Linked DNA regions of Homo sapiens: region 1 is linked to region 2. Evidence: fine-mapped expression QTL. A gene starts in region 2. The other region holds a variant in brackets. All regions are shown on one strand. Distances are between the middles of the regions. Region 1 overlaps LINC01722 (long intergenic non-protein coding RNA 1722). Region 2 holds the start of SPTLC3 (serine palmitoyltransferase long chain base subunit 3).

Region 1 (2,912 bases), 83 kb before region 2:
GGGACTAGGATGCAAGATCCCATCTGCCATTTGCTCACTGTGACCCTGGCCATCACTTGGCTTCCACCTGTGTAAAATGGGAAAAAGGTGTTTTCCTAGTCATTAAAAATGTAATATATGAGGCACAGCTTATTAATTTCTAGGTAGAAAACTATACGATTACTCAAGTCAATTGCATGTCATTGCTAATTTAAAGAAAAAGATAATCAATTGATTTTGGGTGAACAGTTTTAATTTGAAGCAGGATTAGTCAAGATAACAATGTATTTTAGCCAGAAATAAATTTAAGTCTGTAGTCATTAGAGTTAAAATATTCTTTCTAATAGCTATACAGTACAGAAAAAGACTGCTGAAGAAATTTGACATGTAATAAAAAAGAGAATGAAGAAAAAGTGAGAGTGGATTTAAAAGGCTGCTGTTCCGTTTTCAGACTGCAGGCTGCCCCCCTGCTGAGCTGCCCAGCTGCTCAGTTCATTTCTTAGTGAAGTGCCTTTTTTGGGCTTAGCCACAAGATGTCAGCCTAAGCTTAGCCATTTGTGCATTTTTCCGCGCCTCCAACCCATTTCTTCCCTTCCATTTCATTTCCTCTTTCGGCTCTGAGCAAATGAATAATCTTTTGGATTGTGGGCACTAGATGAATAACAATGGAGTAACTGGAGCATTCAAAGGGCCTCTGCTGATAGCAGCTTCCACCAAGTCTCAGGAAGAGCCCCCTTTCCTTCCCATTGCAGTCCCCAAGCCTGGGAGGCCATTGTCCTCTCTCAGGCCAAGTGTATCTATGTGTTGGCGCTTCCTACACAGGGACAAAAAATCCAGGATCCGTGACCCCTAGGAGAGAATGCTGTTAACCTGTCTCCCAGGAAGGTGGATAAAGGCGATTTCAGGTTGGCTCAGCAGCCCTGGGAACTTTCAAGGGTGAATACTGCTTTCTCAGCTGCAACCTGTCTTCCCCAATGCATCGGCATTTGAGAACAAGATACCCCACCTGGGTACGAGATGCCTGCAGTACCTCTAAGAATCATGTTCTCACCACATTGGTGAAGGCAAAAAATGGGCAGATTTTCTTTCCCCATGGATTTTTGTAAAGGTGAAAATTTTCCAGACACCCCCCCTACACACACCAGCAAATGTACACTTACAACTGACTGGTCAGAAATCAGTCACCTGCCTGTCCCTGAAACCATCAGCAGTAAGAGGAGTAGGGATGCCATAACTGGTTTAGATTAGTGAGATCCATCTCCTGGGCCTAGGGAGGGTCCACCTTCCTTAAGCACATAGCTTTTGCCAGAGATCAGTACTCCCGGAGCTGAATTCCAGGGCCTGCCGTGATGACCCAGAACTCAGGACACAGCCCTGTCTCCCAGGGGCTCAGTGAACACACGTCCAGTCACGACTGCCCAGGGAGATTTGCAGTGGGCTAGAGTTTTGCTAAAGAGAGGCCAGGCAACCACCAACTAAACTACCTGCCCTTTGCTGGAGAAAGAGGAGGAGGAAAAAGAAATAAATGCTGCTGAGACTGACAGAGCAGGAGCACCGTCATCTCAGACAAACACCGCCACTTTAAGCTCCAGCTCCCCTTCTAGCCTCATGCATTTCAAGGAAATCACTTCTCTTCTAACTACAAGCAGCCAGAAAGAGCAGACAGTAAAACACAGATAAGACAGCTCGGGCACAGAGGAAAGTAGGGGG[C/A]AAGTCGCTTGGGTAACTGCCAAAGTTCACCCTCATACAACGGGCCCCAGTAAAACAGTGGGCCTTAATAAGCACATTCCTTTCCCTTCAGGTGCACTAAGATAGGGAAGCTAAAAGCAGACTCAGGGGGCTATGCCTGCAGCTGCAGAAAGATATATGAGAACAGACACACAACTCTCCTTCCCAGATAAGCACAACAAAGAGACACAGAAGCAATCCAAGCCTCTGATAAACTCTCCTATCCTGAATTCTTAAAAACTCTTGGTCATAAGAGAGTGTGGCTCTGACCTAGCTTGGCCAGCCGCCCCTCTCAGGTTTATTTAAAATAAACTTGTCCCTGTTGACTGTAAAGCCACCCTTGAAGTTTCTCTCCTCTTTCTTTAATTCTTGCAGTGACTATATTGTCTCTGGCATCAAGAGGACTGGGGTCAGTCCAGTAGCTCTGGGCTCTGGGACCTGCTCTGCTTAGACTGTCTGAGAACCCGAGAGCATGGTGCCTCTGTTCTCTGGGTCTGTTTCCTTCAGAGAAATGCAGTCTGTTCCAGGATGTACAGCATCAGAACCAGCCTGGGCTATAGGCCTCCTATGGAAACAGGCAGGCTCAGGCCCATGCTTATCTGTCTCTCACTGTGCCATTGAGCCACCAGAGTCATGGGAGCCAGTGTTTTCCAACCGAAGGGACTTCTGTGCCCACTTTCTAGAACCTCTCCTTGAGCCGACCTATGGGGATAAAACACACACACGAAAGCAGGACATCCTGAGGAAGGGACCCTGGGAGGAAGATGAACAGTGAGACCATTCCTGTTCATCCTTGTAGAATAGGAGATAAGTTGATTTATCATTCATTAGACAGAACTGTGTAATAAAGGTATTTATGTGTGCAAGGCTGTGGTATGCAACAACTCTGGGGGAAGGAGGAAGAGAAAGAAATGAGACTTGGCTTTGGGTTGGATGTGCGATGCTTTTTCTCAGAGAAATCAATTTTTTGCAGAAAGAAGCATGCTGTCTATTGGGATGTCGCTGCCCCACGAACAGTCACTACACCCTTGATGCATCCTCTGCGGGGGGCTCAGGGCCTCAGGAACACTAAACACCACAGGGGACCAGGCTTCATCCTGACACACACTGGGAATCAACCCAGCTGTCATTTCCATGGGTGTGGAAGAAAACTAATGACTCAAGGCTTGAATCATAAGTGGTCCAGCTTCCACTGGCAGAGGTAG
Region 2 (2,912 bases):
CTTGAGACACAAACTGGGCTGAACACACTTGGTATTAACTCCGTCTTTCACCTTGGCCTCAGGCCTTATCTTATTCCTCCAGCATTCCTTGGGATGGTAAAGGCAGGTACCCTCATATGCAAGTCATAGTTAGGAGAAGCGTTAGCATGTCCACCTCCAAAAGCTACATTAATCTGGAGTAGAACTGAACCCTGTCCAAGGGAGCTGAGTTACAGGACATGAGGCTCTGGAAACAGGGGCCATTTCTTTCTTTTTGTTTGTGTGTGTGTGTTTGATTGTTTGTTTTTGTCTACTGCCCCAATAAATTGGTTTCTTTTCTTAGAGTCTGATGCTAAAGAAGTCTCGACTCAGGAAAACCACAAGGGTGGACTTGGGAAGACTCAACAGGTTGTAATGACTCTCCAGCAAATCATGTCACCATGCCATTTGATGATGGTAGGAAGAAACAAAGCCTTGAAGATTCATGCATTGAGAGAATAAGAGTTAGTGAGTAAACCAGATGTGTTTCAGGACTGGGACCCTGCAGTCATCAACCACCTCACACCTGCGTCAGTAACAAACCCAAGCTACAGCATGATTTTTGTTCTACCTCAGCAGATATTTTATAGATGGAAAAACTGAGGCATAAAGTGGGTAAATACCTCCCCCAAGGTCACGAGATAAAGATAACGCAGTCATCAAATATTCTGTCTCCTCAACATCTGTCTTACTGGAATTCTTGATGGATTGGTACCCCCTTATTATAGTACTGATTTTAACATAGGTTGGTTTTGAATACTGGGTTTTTAAAAATCTTTTCAAATCATTTGTAAATTATGGAAATGTATACATCACATGAAACTTACCATTTTAATCATTTTTAAGTGCACAGTTTAGTTTAAGTACATTCACATTGTTGTGCACTGATCCATCACTATACCTTTTTCATCTGCTCCAGCTCAAACTCTGTACCCATTAAACAATAACTTCCCTTTGCCTCATCCCTCCAGGCCCTGGCAACCACCTCTGAATGCTATTTTATAGCAAAAAGAAATATTAACTTTTGAGCTTGGTTTACAACCAAAAACCACAATTACATGCAGGAGAGAGGGGGTGGGAAAAAGAGGTTAACTCAGAACTCAGTTACTTAGAAGACTCTGTGAGTGTGCTGTGTGTGTGTGTCTTTAAAAGACTCTCCACCTCCCAGCCCGCCTCCTCACACTTTGCCACTGGGTTGTTCAGTCCCCAGGTTCCCTCAGTCCCCAGAAGGAGCCAGCATGGACAATCTCCTTTACAGTTTCGGAAGCAGGTTTGTTGCCATGGAGTTCACATTTTGACGGGAGTTGAGAAGTATAAAGGTAACCATTTGTTTTAGTTTCAACGATCTGACAAAAAGATAGGCTGTTGCTCTTCTTCTGGAAAAGCCTGATTGGTAAGATTCCTTTAAGGGCTCAGCCCCAAAGAGCTTTATCCCATCCCCTCGCAGACTGAAAACTAAAGCCTGCAGAGACCTCTGAAGGAAAACCTGTCCCGGGCTCTGTCACTTCACACCCATGGCTAACCCTGGAGGTGGTGCTGTTTGCAACGGGAAACTTCACAATCACAAGAAACAGAGCAATGGCTCACAAAGCAGAAACTGCACAAAGAATGGAATAGTGAAGGAAGCCCAGGTAAGAGGCACTCTCCCCTACTCTTCTCTGAATTACCTGAACGTTTCAATATTTCTCTGTGAAGATATTTGAGGCTGTCCTAACTTAGAGTTCATCTTATGAAGGGTTTTTACATGTTTTGACTGTTGACTCTGTTAATAGAAAGTGCTTGGCTACCAAAAAGTTTAGGTGTGGATTAAGGAGAAAATGTCTTCTGTATGCAAAAGAGGATACACACAGACTCACACAGCTTCAGGCTCCCTAAAATACAAATGTACCTACTAGACTTTTGTCTCAAGCATTTTGCGGGGAGGGAAGAATTAAGAAAGTTCCAACTCTTTGCATATATTTTTGTCCAAGAGACCTGCTACAACCGTCATGCTTCAGAAGAAAAAGAGGAAGTGAAAGTACATTTTGCTGACATTATGTGGTGGAGATGGCATTCTTCCCAGGTCCATGAGAAATGCATCACTGTTTGAAAGGCGAGTTATTATTGGTGTGTAGTGGAGCATTGTTTTAGCTCACTACTTGATTTGAGGCCACAGTATTTCTTTGAAATGTGACGTCACAGACATTCTTTTCCAAAACACTTCAGAAAGCAGGGCTGATTGTGACACACTGCTCTCAGAAAACAGAACAGCATCTTTAAAACAAACTTGTATTTTCCAACTTGACACTTTTTTTTTTTTTCACTCTTATTGCACCGGGATGTTTGCAGAGTGTCCTAGGCAGGAGGAACTCGAGGAAAGTTGTCAGCTTGTTTTAAGAGAGAGCCTGGGTCTGTGAGGTCCTTATGTAAGGCAGTTCCCCACTCCCCACAGGACATCCCGTGTCACTCTGCTCTGAGCAGCAGAAGTGAGCTCATCTGCCTGAGGAGCAAGCCCAAGTAGTCAAACAGGTAGCCTCCTGTTTGGAAAGAGAAGTGGCACAGGGAGCCCCATGCAATCTTCCATCATTTGATCATCCAGAGAGCAAGTATCCACCCACAGGAAAGGCAGATTGTTCTAAGATCACAGGACAGGTGGGTCTGGCTGGGGCCAGTCCTCCTCTCAGTGAATTACATTCGTGTGTGCAATTGGAAGAGGCTAAAGGAGCTCTAGAGCCTGAGTTGTGTGTAAACAGGCTGTGGTCCCCAAAAGCATTCCCCTCTTAACAAAAGGCACTGTCCAACGCTGGGAGGTGTCTATCAGAAACCTCAGAACTGGCCTGTCCCACCTGAGGATCTGAAACCTGGAGCAATGTGAAGAGAAGGTGCTCAACTCCTGTCAGTTGTATGAAGGAAAT

The links. PIP is the estimated chance that this variant, and not a neighbour inherited with it, causes the effect.
Region 1: its variant is fine-mapped to the expression of SPTLC3 in whole blood (TOPMed, PIP above 0.99).

What each region holds. Positions count from the first base shown.
Region 1 is chr20:12,924,842-12,927,753 of GRCh38, forward strand. LINC01722 (long intergenic non-protein coding RNA 1722) reads right to left here. Exons shown (of 12, transcript NR_109868.1): 5 at 1-67. Among named protein-coding and RNA genes, the nearest start is that of LINC01723, 24 kb to the right of the region's middle. RefSeq lists a silencer at 1,677-1,877. The variant C/A (reference allele first, on the strand shown) is at 1,690.
Region 2 is chr20:13,007,736-13,010,647 of GRCh38, forward strand. It overlaps SPTLC3 (serine palmitoyltransferase long chain base subunit 3), which reads left to right and starts at 1,237. Exons shown (of 12, transcript NM_018327.4): 1 at 1,237-1,649. The coding sequence starts at 1,533.